Linked DNA regions of Homo sapiens: region 2 is linked to region 1. Evidence: fine-mapped expression QTL. A gene starts in region 1. The other region holds a variant in brackets. All regions are shown on one strand. Distances are from middle to middle. Region 1 holds the start of KLRK1 (killer cell lectin like receptor K1). Region 2 overlaps LOC105369656 (a long non-coding RNA gene).

The links. PIP is the estimated chance that this variant, and not a neighbour inherited with it, causes the effect. A credible set is the group of variants that fine-mapping cannot tell apart.
Region 2: its variant is the best candidate, but not a certain one, in a credible set for the expression of KLRK1 in whole blood (TOPMed, PIP 0.76).

The regions. Positions count from the first base shown.
Region 1 is chr12:10,387,252-10,392,647 of GRCh38, reverse strand. KLRK1 (killer cell lectin like receptor K1) reads left to right here and starts at 2,607. Exons shown (of 8, transcript NM_007360.4): 1 at 2,607-2,705; 2 at 3,773-3,877. The coding sequence starts at 3,838. KLRC4-KLRK1 (KLRC4-KLRK1 readthrough) reads left to right here. Exons shown (of 13, transcript NM_001199805.1): 6 at 757-813; 7 at 3,773-3,877. The coding sequence starts at 3,838. The region is part of intron 3 of KLRK1-AS1 (KLRK1 antisense RNA 1); the gene reads right to left.
Region 2 is chr12:10,277,726-10,283,121 of GRCh38, reverse strand. LOC105369656 (a long non-coding RNA gene) reads left to right here. Exons shown (of 2, transcript XR_931353.3): 2 at 2,527-2,687. It also overlaps a transcript of KLRD1 not described here. Among named protein-coding and RNA genes, the nearest start is that of KLRD1, 27 kb to the left of the region's middle. The variant T/C (reference allele first, on the strand shown) is at 2,190.

The sequences.
Region 1 (5,396 bases):
ATATTTGGGCAAGCGTCCAGTAAACGCCTCTGACCACATCCAGCTTTAGTGTCACAGCTTGAAGCCAGCAACCTGCCAAGCACTCTGTTTCTAACCACAAGTTGGCTGCGTGTTAAGTCTTTCCTGTGTACCAGAAGAGAAGGGTTTTCTGAGGCCACAGTGCGAGTTAGCTTACTGACCAAAAAGGCCGGTTGATTGTTGGCTCTTCTCAACTAATGAAAGTAATTAAATAGTTTATTGTGGTGATGGATGTTCTCAAATGACTTGAGCCCAGGCTGTTTGCAAAATATTGTAATTTTTCTTCTAACAATAGTTTTTGAAAGTTATATAGATACGTCTATATGAAGTTTGTTCAGGTACTTTTATAGTCAAATTATTCTTTCTGCAGAAGTTAATTGCGTTGGTTTTATTTCACTTATTAGAAAGTATTTTATCTGAAAACTATGCTATGTCCTTTTGCAATTCACATAGAATAAACCAGTACAAATGCCCAGCAAATCCCCAATAAGTTTACTATCATGACTACAGCAAAGTGAGTGTATGTTCAACATTGAGAAAGAAATTGGAGTTTTAACATACTATTTCTTTATCTAACTAATTGTTTTAACCCGACATACAGGACCCATTTTAGAATTTTCTTCTTTAAGAATCCTTTCCACACTCTGTCAGTTGGTTTAGGGACCTTTATATATGACAATAAAACTCTCCCTGGTGCTTAGCTTTATCATGGTATTTATTTCAGAAATCTTCTTTTAGGTATGTGTGGGGACTTCCCAGTTGGCTGTAAGTTGCCATTTGAACTAAACGAAATAGGTAGGATATTCAAATGTTCTTTTTTATCCTATTCCTATCCCCCTTTTCTCAATTCTGTATTTAAGAGACAATCTCTATTCAATCGAAAACTACATATATAAAAATAACTCTTCAGGAAATTGTGATTCAGGTTTTTCCCATAAAAAGCCTGCATTTACTCATTTATTCATTTCCTTTCAAAAACCAAATATTTGTTAAAATGTAGTTGTTAGAAAATATCAGCCTATATTTCCTCTATATAGATCTATTTTTACTATATAAAATAGCTAATAGAAAATGTTGATTAGCTGAAAAGAATCTTGGTATGTCAGAAAATAACATATTTTCTTCAACTTGTTTTATATTCACCTATCTTGTTTAATTTTGAATTTGTTTTATACTTATTCATTTTATATCACCTAAACTAAAAAGTAATTTCCAGCTGGGTGTGGTGGCTCACGTCTGTAATCTCAGCACATTGGGAGGCTGAGGCAGGAGGATCACCTGAGGTCAGGAGTTCGAGACCAGCCTGACTAACATGGTGAAACCTCGTCTCTACTAGAAATACAAAAATTAGCCAGGTGTGGTGGCACATGCCTGTAATCCCAGTTATTCTGGAGGCTGAGACAGGAGAATTGCTTGAACCCAGGTGGCGGAGGTTGCAGTGAGCCGAGATCGCCCCGTTGCACTCCAGCCTGGACAACAAGAGTGAAACTCCATCTCTTAAAAAAAAAAAAAAAAAAAGTAATTAATTTCCATGTGGGCAAAAACTTTCTTTTGGATTGTTTACTTTGACATTCTCAAGATCTAGAAAAGTGCATAGCAAATAGCATTCGCTAAAGAAAAAAAATGTTGAATAAATTTATTGTCCAACTTTAACACATCACCACATGAAAGCTGTTTTCCTTCCTTATATTTCAGAGTTTTAAGATTAATAGCTTTGGTTTTTGTTAAAATGTTATAATGTGTTCATCTTATATTACTTTATATGATGTCTTATGTTAGTATTTTAAATTAATAAACATAAAATATATATTTAGCTTATCTTGTTCATTGGTATCAATTCATATATTATTCTTATGTATACTGGGGTATATATTTAAGTTTCTAATTCTCCTGCATATGATGTAGATATGACAGAGATGCAATTTCATGTTTTTTATATTAAAATTTAAAAATTCCCAGGACTAATTTTTTGTAACTTAAAGGCCAGTGTGATAGTAACCCAGGACAAATTATTGAATAGGAGCTAATTTCCCACTTTATCTGCAATGTTACCTTATATTTTTTAATCTATGCACATGACTTTTTCTTGTCTGTATTTTTACCCTTCTCAATTTGTCTATCTATGCCCCACATGCCACTTTGCCTTTATTAATACGGTTTTAACATAGGTCTTACTATCTAGTAAAACAAGGCTCCCACATTTTCTTCATCTTCAATTGTGACTTTCCTAGTCTTGACTTTTGTAATTTAATGTACATGTAGAATTCTGCTTTGTAAGTTCTACAACAAAACCTGAGGTATTAACTGGAATTGAATTGAATCTCTAAAATATTTAGGATTAAATGGCATCATTTAAATTCATCATTTTCAAATCCTAAAATGTTATTTAAAATAATGGCAAAACTACAATTACTTTTGCACCAACCTAACATTTATCCAACAATGGGTGGTCTTAACTCTTTTACCAAATTAACAATATTTTTGTAGTGATAAGGCGGAAGTACTGTGGTTTATGTTTTTCCACAGGAAGATGAGATTATAATATTTGTCACATCTTTCTCAAAGATAGAAATTCACTAAGTATCTCCACTTTCAATTCTAGATCAGGAACTGAGGACATATCTAAATTTTCTAGTTTTATAGAAGGCTTTTATCCACAAGAATCAAGATCTTCCCTCTCTGAGCAGGTGTGTGTATGTGTGTATGTGTGTGTGTTTATTATTCAAGATATGAGAAATTATATTTCAACCTCAAAAAAATAAAAATATTTACACTATAAGGTAATTCTAATTGTTTCTTAGATGCTTGAATAGAACTCCTGAGGATACGGAATGCTTATCATTTCTGATGTATATTCTATCACTGTATCTGATGATAGGTAATTAGGATATACTTATTGAAGAATCAGAAGTTGTAATATTACTATAAGAAGAAGCCTTGTCTCTAAGCAAAACTAGAAAAATGAATCTTTACATTTAGGATGAGAAGAATTGAGATTCAATTTAAATTGTCAAATTTTTGAGTTTTCTGATGCTGTAGGGGGCACTTACCTTTGATACACATCTTTACATGCAAGGTGAAACAAGTTATATCTGTGCTTTCCAACTATCATAATCAAATATGAAATAGCTTTTATTTTTGAAATCTAAGCACTATGCTTATTTATTAAATGGTTTTTTCTGGAAGCTCTGCTGTGCATTGCTAAGATGTTACTATATAAACATGTGAGATTAGTTTTGTTAATGATGATGGTGATGATAATTTGTTGATGATGATGATATGGGCACGTTGGATTAAAATGCACTAGAAAAGGACATTCAACAAAAGTGCATATAACTTACCTGAGTTTAGCTTGCAGAAAGAAAACTAAATTATTGCCAGATAAAATAAACAACTGGAAACACTTGATCTTAGCTAAAAGGCCAAGAAGCAATAAACGACTATAAACAGAAAACTGGGTGTGTTGTTATCTAATATCAGTAAAGTAAAATATTGGTATTAAATATCTCAATGTAGGTGAATTAATAGGTTCATTATATTGTTATGACATTTTGAAGTAATTGGCGATTATTTTACAACCAAGAGAAATGTATAAAATTAATTTTGCCTGGCTTTATGTGAATTGTCATTTCTATTCTTTTCTTAAAGGCATGCACAGGGGAAAAGTTTCTGCATTTTACTTTTCTATTCAAAATATTTTATCTCACCACGGGAAAGAGAACAAAAAACAAATGCCCAGTTTTATTTTATTCAGGAATCCTTTGTGCATTGAAGACTTTAGATTCCTCTCTGCGGTAGACGTGCACTTATAAGTATTTGATGGGGTGGATTCGTGGTCGGAGGTCTCGACACAGCTGGGGTATGTTTTTACCACATAAGTGTGTAGTTTTGTTTTTATACAATTTTAAGATACCAAGAATTTCATACAAGCATATAAGGCATAGGCAAGCAATTTACTCTGATTCTTTTCATGTTCTATTTATGTTGATTTCATGTTATGTTCATATTGTATTTTAAATCAAGTCTTCCAAAACTTAAAAACTTTTTTCCCTTTATTTTATTAACTATATTATGGTAAAGTCGCTCACAACTTGGGACAGCTTGAAATAGTGAAATAGATGTGGAGTCAGACTTGAATTTTACTCAAACTTTTACCGCTCTCTAGATTTGAAGGGTCAATTTGCAACCTCTGTGTAGTTTAGTTTAGTTTCTTTTTCTATCAAATACAGGCATGAAACATTCCATATTTATCTTAGATTTGTGTAATATTCAAATCAACTGACATGTATGTTAAAGCACTTTTTATCCTAAAGGTGTTTATAAATTTATAACTTATTCACAGTTGGTAACATTATATTAAATAAGCTTTATGATTTTGGCCATCTCTAGCATTCAATTTCTTCATCCATAAAGTGATACCTACTCTCTTTACTCCATATGTAAAATAACTGAGTTAGGTATTACATGCGCAATCAATGTCTAATTTTACCTATAAAATATAATTCATATTATCATTTAATTTATAAAAGGCTTTTGTACAACAAACCCCCGTGACATGAATTTACATATGTAACAAACCTTCGCATGCACCCCTGAACCAAAAATAAAAGTTTAAAAAAGGCTTTTAAGTAAATATTAATCATCAGTAAATAATTAATATTTCAAGAGAGCAAAATGATTCTTTAGGTATTTTGTTCAGAGGCAAGATTATCTGTCTTTGTTCTAAATCATTAGACCCCACTATTTTAGCCTATGTATGTCCTTCATTATAAAGAAAATTAGATGGCTGGGCACAGTGGCTCATGCCTATAATCCCAGAAATTTGGGAGGCTGAGGTGGGTAGATCACCTGTGGTCAGGAGTTCGAGACCAGCCTGGCCAATATGGTGAAACCCCGTCTGTACTAAAAATACAAAAATTAGCCAGGTATGGTGGCACAAGCCTGTAATCCCAGCTACTCAAGAGGCTGAGGCAGGAGAACCGCTTGAACCCAGGAGGCGGCGGTTGCAGTGAGCCAATATCACGCCATTGCACTCCATCTCAAAAAAAAAAAAAGAAAAGAAGAAAATTAGACACACTGCTATTTACTAAAAGCTTACTAAATGATTGATGTTATTGATGCTAAGTTCATTATATTTTTATTTTATTTTTAAAATACCCATACTGGATTGTGACAGTATCCTTTTCTTTTTTATTTCTTTCGTCTTTTGCAAATTAGGAAAACTGGGATGCAAAAGCTAGGTTATTTGTGAAGTTATCAAGTTTGTATATGTGGATCTGTGATTTAAATACATGTCTTTCTCCCTACATCTGCCTTTTCACTAACCAAGTCCCTTTCTGGTAATGTTAGGTTTCATTATACATTACGAATTAACTAAT
Region 2 (5,396 bases), 110 kb after region 1:
AATTGTCTTCTTTCTCCTGACGGACTCTTAGATTTCTCCAACTGTTTGATAAATACCCTCCTCTGTTAACTTCCCTCTATGTAATGACTTGGCACAGAATTTGTTTTCCTGCCTGGACATTCACGAATACATCAACCTACCTTGAATAATATCTACTACACTCTTGTTTCCCTGACAATTTCTCTGTCTTTATTTCTACCTATTTCTGCTCAGTCCCTCCCTCTGATCTAGCCCCAATGCTACTTCTCAAACAAACCATTCAGTCTTAGGTTGTAGAGACTGTCCACTATTTGAACAGTTCCTTGCTCAAATATTTTAGAGACTCTCTACGTCAAACGTCGCTCATTTGACATTACTCAAATGACACCTCCTTTGGAATGCCTTCCTTGAACACATCTTCTAACTTTGTACCCACATCATTATGTATGCTCTACAATATTTCTTACAAAAGAGAAAGAAGCCAAAGTTCAGTCACAGGACCAATAACTTAAAGCCAAAATATAAAGTGGCATACCATTTTAAACATAATACTATATATGAACTTTATAGTAATTATATTTTTATTTGCCAGATGTGGTGGCTCACACCTGTAATCCCAGCACTTTGGGAGGCTGAGGCAGGCGGATCATCTGAGGTCAGGAGTTCGAGATCAGCCTGACCAACATGGAGAAACCCCATCTCTACTAAAAATACAAAATTAGCCGGGCATGGTAGTGCATGCCTGTAATCCCAGCTACTCAGGAAGGCTGAAGCAAGAGAATCACTTGAAGCCGGGAGGCGGAGGTTGTGGTGAGCCGAGATCATGCCATTACACCCCAGCCTGGGCAATAAGAGTGAAACTCAGTCTCAAAAAAAAAAAAAAATGTATGTATACATATGTGTATATGTTTTTATTTGATATTTGTAACTTTATGGAGAATGTATTTTATTATATAATGCTGACATTAAAAAATTATAGGCAATGTTAGAGAAATCAAATATTTATATTTTTATAAAAATAATGAATAGAAGAGTGACATATAACGATCAGAGTACTTTATTCTCAAATTCACAAAAATGATAAACCAGAAGATTAAAACTAGAAGAGATTAGTGGTTATTGGTAGTTTTAACAGAATTCAGATTAGAAGGCTACATTTGTATGAGAATTATTGTTTCTCAAGACTACAGAATTCTATTTATGTAACCAAAACAATTAGAATAATTCAAATACTGCCGTGTAAGTTTATGACCAAGGTTTCCCTCAATTTCCCTCTAAATTGGATATATAGTCTTGCTCTTCACCTGCTTCCCCGGAGTCTCCAATTATGTAAGTAATTCTCAGATAATCGTCTCTTAGTCATGTTCAGTCACGGGAATGTGTCATTTCAGGAATTCAAATTCCTAAATCTATATAATAACAAAATTTTTGAATTTTATGCAAAGCTAAAATTTTTCTTTTTCCTTTGGCTCCAACTGAACTCAGATGAGAAAATCAGCACAGAAAAAGGTAGTGTAGATGATTCCTCTCTTTGTCTCGGGAGAGAATCTCAGGGGGTTCTTGGATACATCCCTGCGGAGCCCTGCAACTACAACTCCTGACATGGGCAATGAACCTGCACTTGTGTGTTGTGTGGTTTTGATTCTTCCTCACCCTCAAACCAGGTGTCTCATATTTTCTGTTAGAGCGCTATATCCCACCTATCACTCTTCATGCATGGCAGCTGTCTTAGTATACTATTGCTGCTGTAACAAACAAGCACAAATTTAGTAAGAAAAACAACAAAAATTATTCTCTTACAGTTTTAGAGGGTTGGAGTCTGAAAAGTCTTATGGAGCTAATATCAAGGTTACAGCAGGGCTGAATCTGTTCCTCTCCTCATCCAGCTTCTCATGTCTGCCAGCGTTCCCTCACTTGTGGTTTTGTCTTTCCAGCTTCTGTTCCCATGATTGCACTGCCTCCTCCTTTTCTGTACTCAAATCTCCCTCTGCATCCCTTTTATAAGGATACTTGGGGTTACATTTTAAGCTGACTTTGATAATCCAAAATAATCCTTCAATCTCAAGATCCTCAATCTCTTCTCACTTCTCCTAAGTATCTCTCGCCCTATAAGGTAGCATTCACAGCTTCCAATGATTATGACCTGGATATACTTGGAGCCATTATTCAGCCTACTATAGAATCTAGGATGAGTCCAGGTTATTCCCTGC[T/C]CTCATCTGGACCCCTTTTACCTACAAGAAACATTCACACATAGTTTATTATATGGATGTGCAACGGGTTCCCAGTGGATCTTTCACAACTCTACCACCACAGGCTTCTGGGGGCAGGATTCTCAACACCTGGTTTTCAAACCACACCTCACCTCCATTCTCCATGCTTTTTTGCTGCATTCTGTGCAGCTGAGCTCTGACAACTGTATCACACAGTCTTCCTCACCCTCTGGCTTCTGTCTGTTTTCAACCATTGGAAAGCATTGGTAGGAGAAGAGAAGCTGGGATGAGAAAGTGGAAAAATTATATAATTCTCTAGCTCCTTCCTCATTTTCAGGTCCTGGAAATGGCTAGAATCTGTCCTGAACTCTTGGCATCTTCTGATACTCAACGATGGAGCACGGCGTGAACATCATCCTGCTGCCCTACACAATATTGTCTAGACTATGGGTAGCTAAAAAATCTATTTGCAATTAATAATAAAGAAATAAAAACAAAGTTCTGATTAAGTATTCTGCTGTATATTTTCCTAGAATATTGGCTACTTAAATGTTTTCCATATAATTATTAAATAAATATTTATTCTGAAGCGGTCCATCTCTATTCTGATCTAGCCCATGTTGAATTTTTTCTTCAGAAAGGAAAAGAGATTTTTCTCCTGCATTTAATCCAGTGATTATTTTTCATTTAAACATCAGGCATCTGGTTAATACACTCAAGGTGTGCAAAAAGTGTGGCTGACACATCATTTCACTGTACGTTCCTCTGTACAGAACACTTCCAACCACAGTGTTGCTAGCCCTGGAAAGAACATTTAGCACCTAGACCACCGATGTTATTGTAACGATTGTTGGTAATTCTAACTTGTGTCATGGGAAAGGAGAAAGACATTTCTGATGAAAAATAATAAAATTCTACTGCAAGAGATATTGAAAGTCAAATCTGTGTATCTGGCCCAGAAGCAGTAGGTTTTACTTAACAGAGGAGAAGGAAATCAAAACTGAGATTTGCAAGCCTGGATGTGGTGACCACTATTAACTATCACATTAGTGTCATTATCATTTGGACAAGTAGGACCACAGGTAACAACATTAGCTTCAGAATCATAAAAGGATTTTTTGTTGGAAGAGGAAAGAGGGAGGAATGTAGAGACAGATAATAATGTGAAATAACATGAGGCAGGAAAAATTTTGATGTAATGAGAATAAGAAATAATATAAGGATGGAAAAATTCTTGATACAAGTTATACATATGATTATGTAAGTATTATAATCATGTTCTGAACATGCATTCTTTGAGATTTTGTCTCAATTGGATGTATTTAGGTAACGTAATTTGTAAACAGAAATAATGGGCAAGTGCATGCATATAAAGAAAACCCCTGAATACCTGTCATACTGCCTATTTATATAAATCAGAATCCTTTACAATCTTGAACTCATTCTGCTTAGAAAAATAAAATGTGATTTGATAATAAGATTTCCAGAAAACACATTCAGGCATTTATACTAGAGAAACAGGAAGCTAGACCATTTTAAAAATCATTTTTCTGAAACTGTAAGTGACTAAAACAGCCATGCATATGACACAGCCACATAAAAGAATGAGATCATGTCTTTTGCAGCAACATGGATGAAGCTGGAGGACATTATCCTAAGCAAACTAACACAGAAACAGAAAACCAAATACTGCATGTTCTCACTTATAAGTGGGAGCTAAACATTGAATACATGTGGACACAAAGAAGAGAACAATAGAAACCAGGACCTGCTTGAGGGTGGAGAGTAGAAGGAGGGTGAGGATCAAAAAACTACCTGTTGGGTAGTATGCTTATTGCCTGGGTAATGAAATAACCTGTAAACCAAATCCCCAGAATACTCAATTTACCCATGTAGCAAATCTCCACAGGTACCCCCTAAACCTAAAATTAAAAAAAAAAAAAAACTGATGCTAACATGTTTTTACAAAAAAAAAAAAAAAGAATTGTAAAACACAATGAAAATAGCATACATATCTGAGAAGCCATTTATCATATTTAACATTCCCTTTAAGAAAGAGTATGCCTCTGTGCAAATTTGCTATATCTAATTCTCCCAGGGAAGAAAGTTGTTCATACAGGAAAAAACAAAACAAAACAAAACAAAAACAGCCATGATTTGCATTACATGTTAAAAGAAGTAACATTTTCTTAGCAATCAGTAGCAAATAACTTTACTTAAGTGGCAGTTTTCGGAAGGATATAATTTAAAACTAAGGACTTACTTTGCAAATAGCAGTAAGTGTTTTTAAATCAATGGTTACCATTAAACACAGCTTATATAGCATACACAAGTTAAGCAATAGGTCAGAAAATAAATAGGAATCAAGACAGCACTAGTTCAGGGACTGTTCTTGAATTCATAATATGTGGACCAAGAAGAGATGAGGAAGGTAGAGTCAGAAATTGCTTTTGTGTAATTTTGAGGAGGCCATACCAAAGCTTAACAATACCAGATGCCTACAGATGGTAGGGAGCATGGAAGTCCACCAAATACTTTAAATATTAGCCTTATAAGTGGCTTTTTTGATAAGACAGGCACCATTTTCAGACTGTAAATGGCTTGGAAACCTGAAAACCTGACATGGATTATTTTCACAGGTCAAATGGAATGGCTTGAGTTGGCTGATAAGACTGGAATAGTAATACTATCACCTAGGAAAGCGCACACAGAGTGAGGCTCAACGGACAGCTACAAGAGAGGGTCAAATATCCATTGTAGTTAATCTGCCAAAAGTGAGTAGGGGCAATACCCTGTGCAATGTGGTCTCCTCCTCCAGAAAACAATAGGATCATCTTAGGCAGGGGCCACAAGTCTGGCATGCAGTGGAAGCCTCTGCATAAGAAACAGTCCTTCACTCTCTGCCAGTCTATGATGGTCGCTGTGTTGTCATGTCCAGAATAACGATAAATCCAGGCAGCACTGGTAGAGATCAAATAGTGCACAGACTTTAAACCTTTCACAAAATTTAACCTGAAAGGAATCACAGATGTACATGTAAAATACAGATGTCCACATTCTCTGATGAGACCAGTTGGAATTAAGCTGTTGATTGAGTCTGCACTAACTGATCAATATTTTCTGTAATCTAAAACTTTTCTAAAACATAAAGTCTACTAATTTTTAAAAATCAGAGGGACTAATTGAAGTAATATCATAAAATAAATA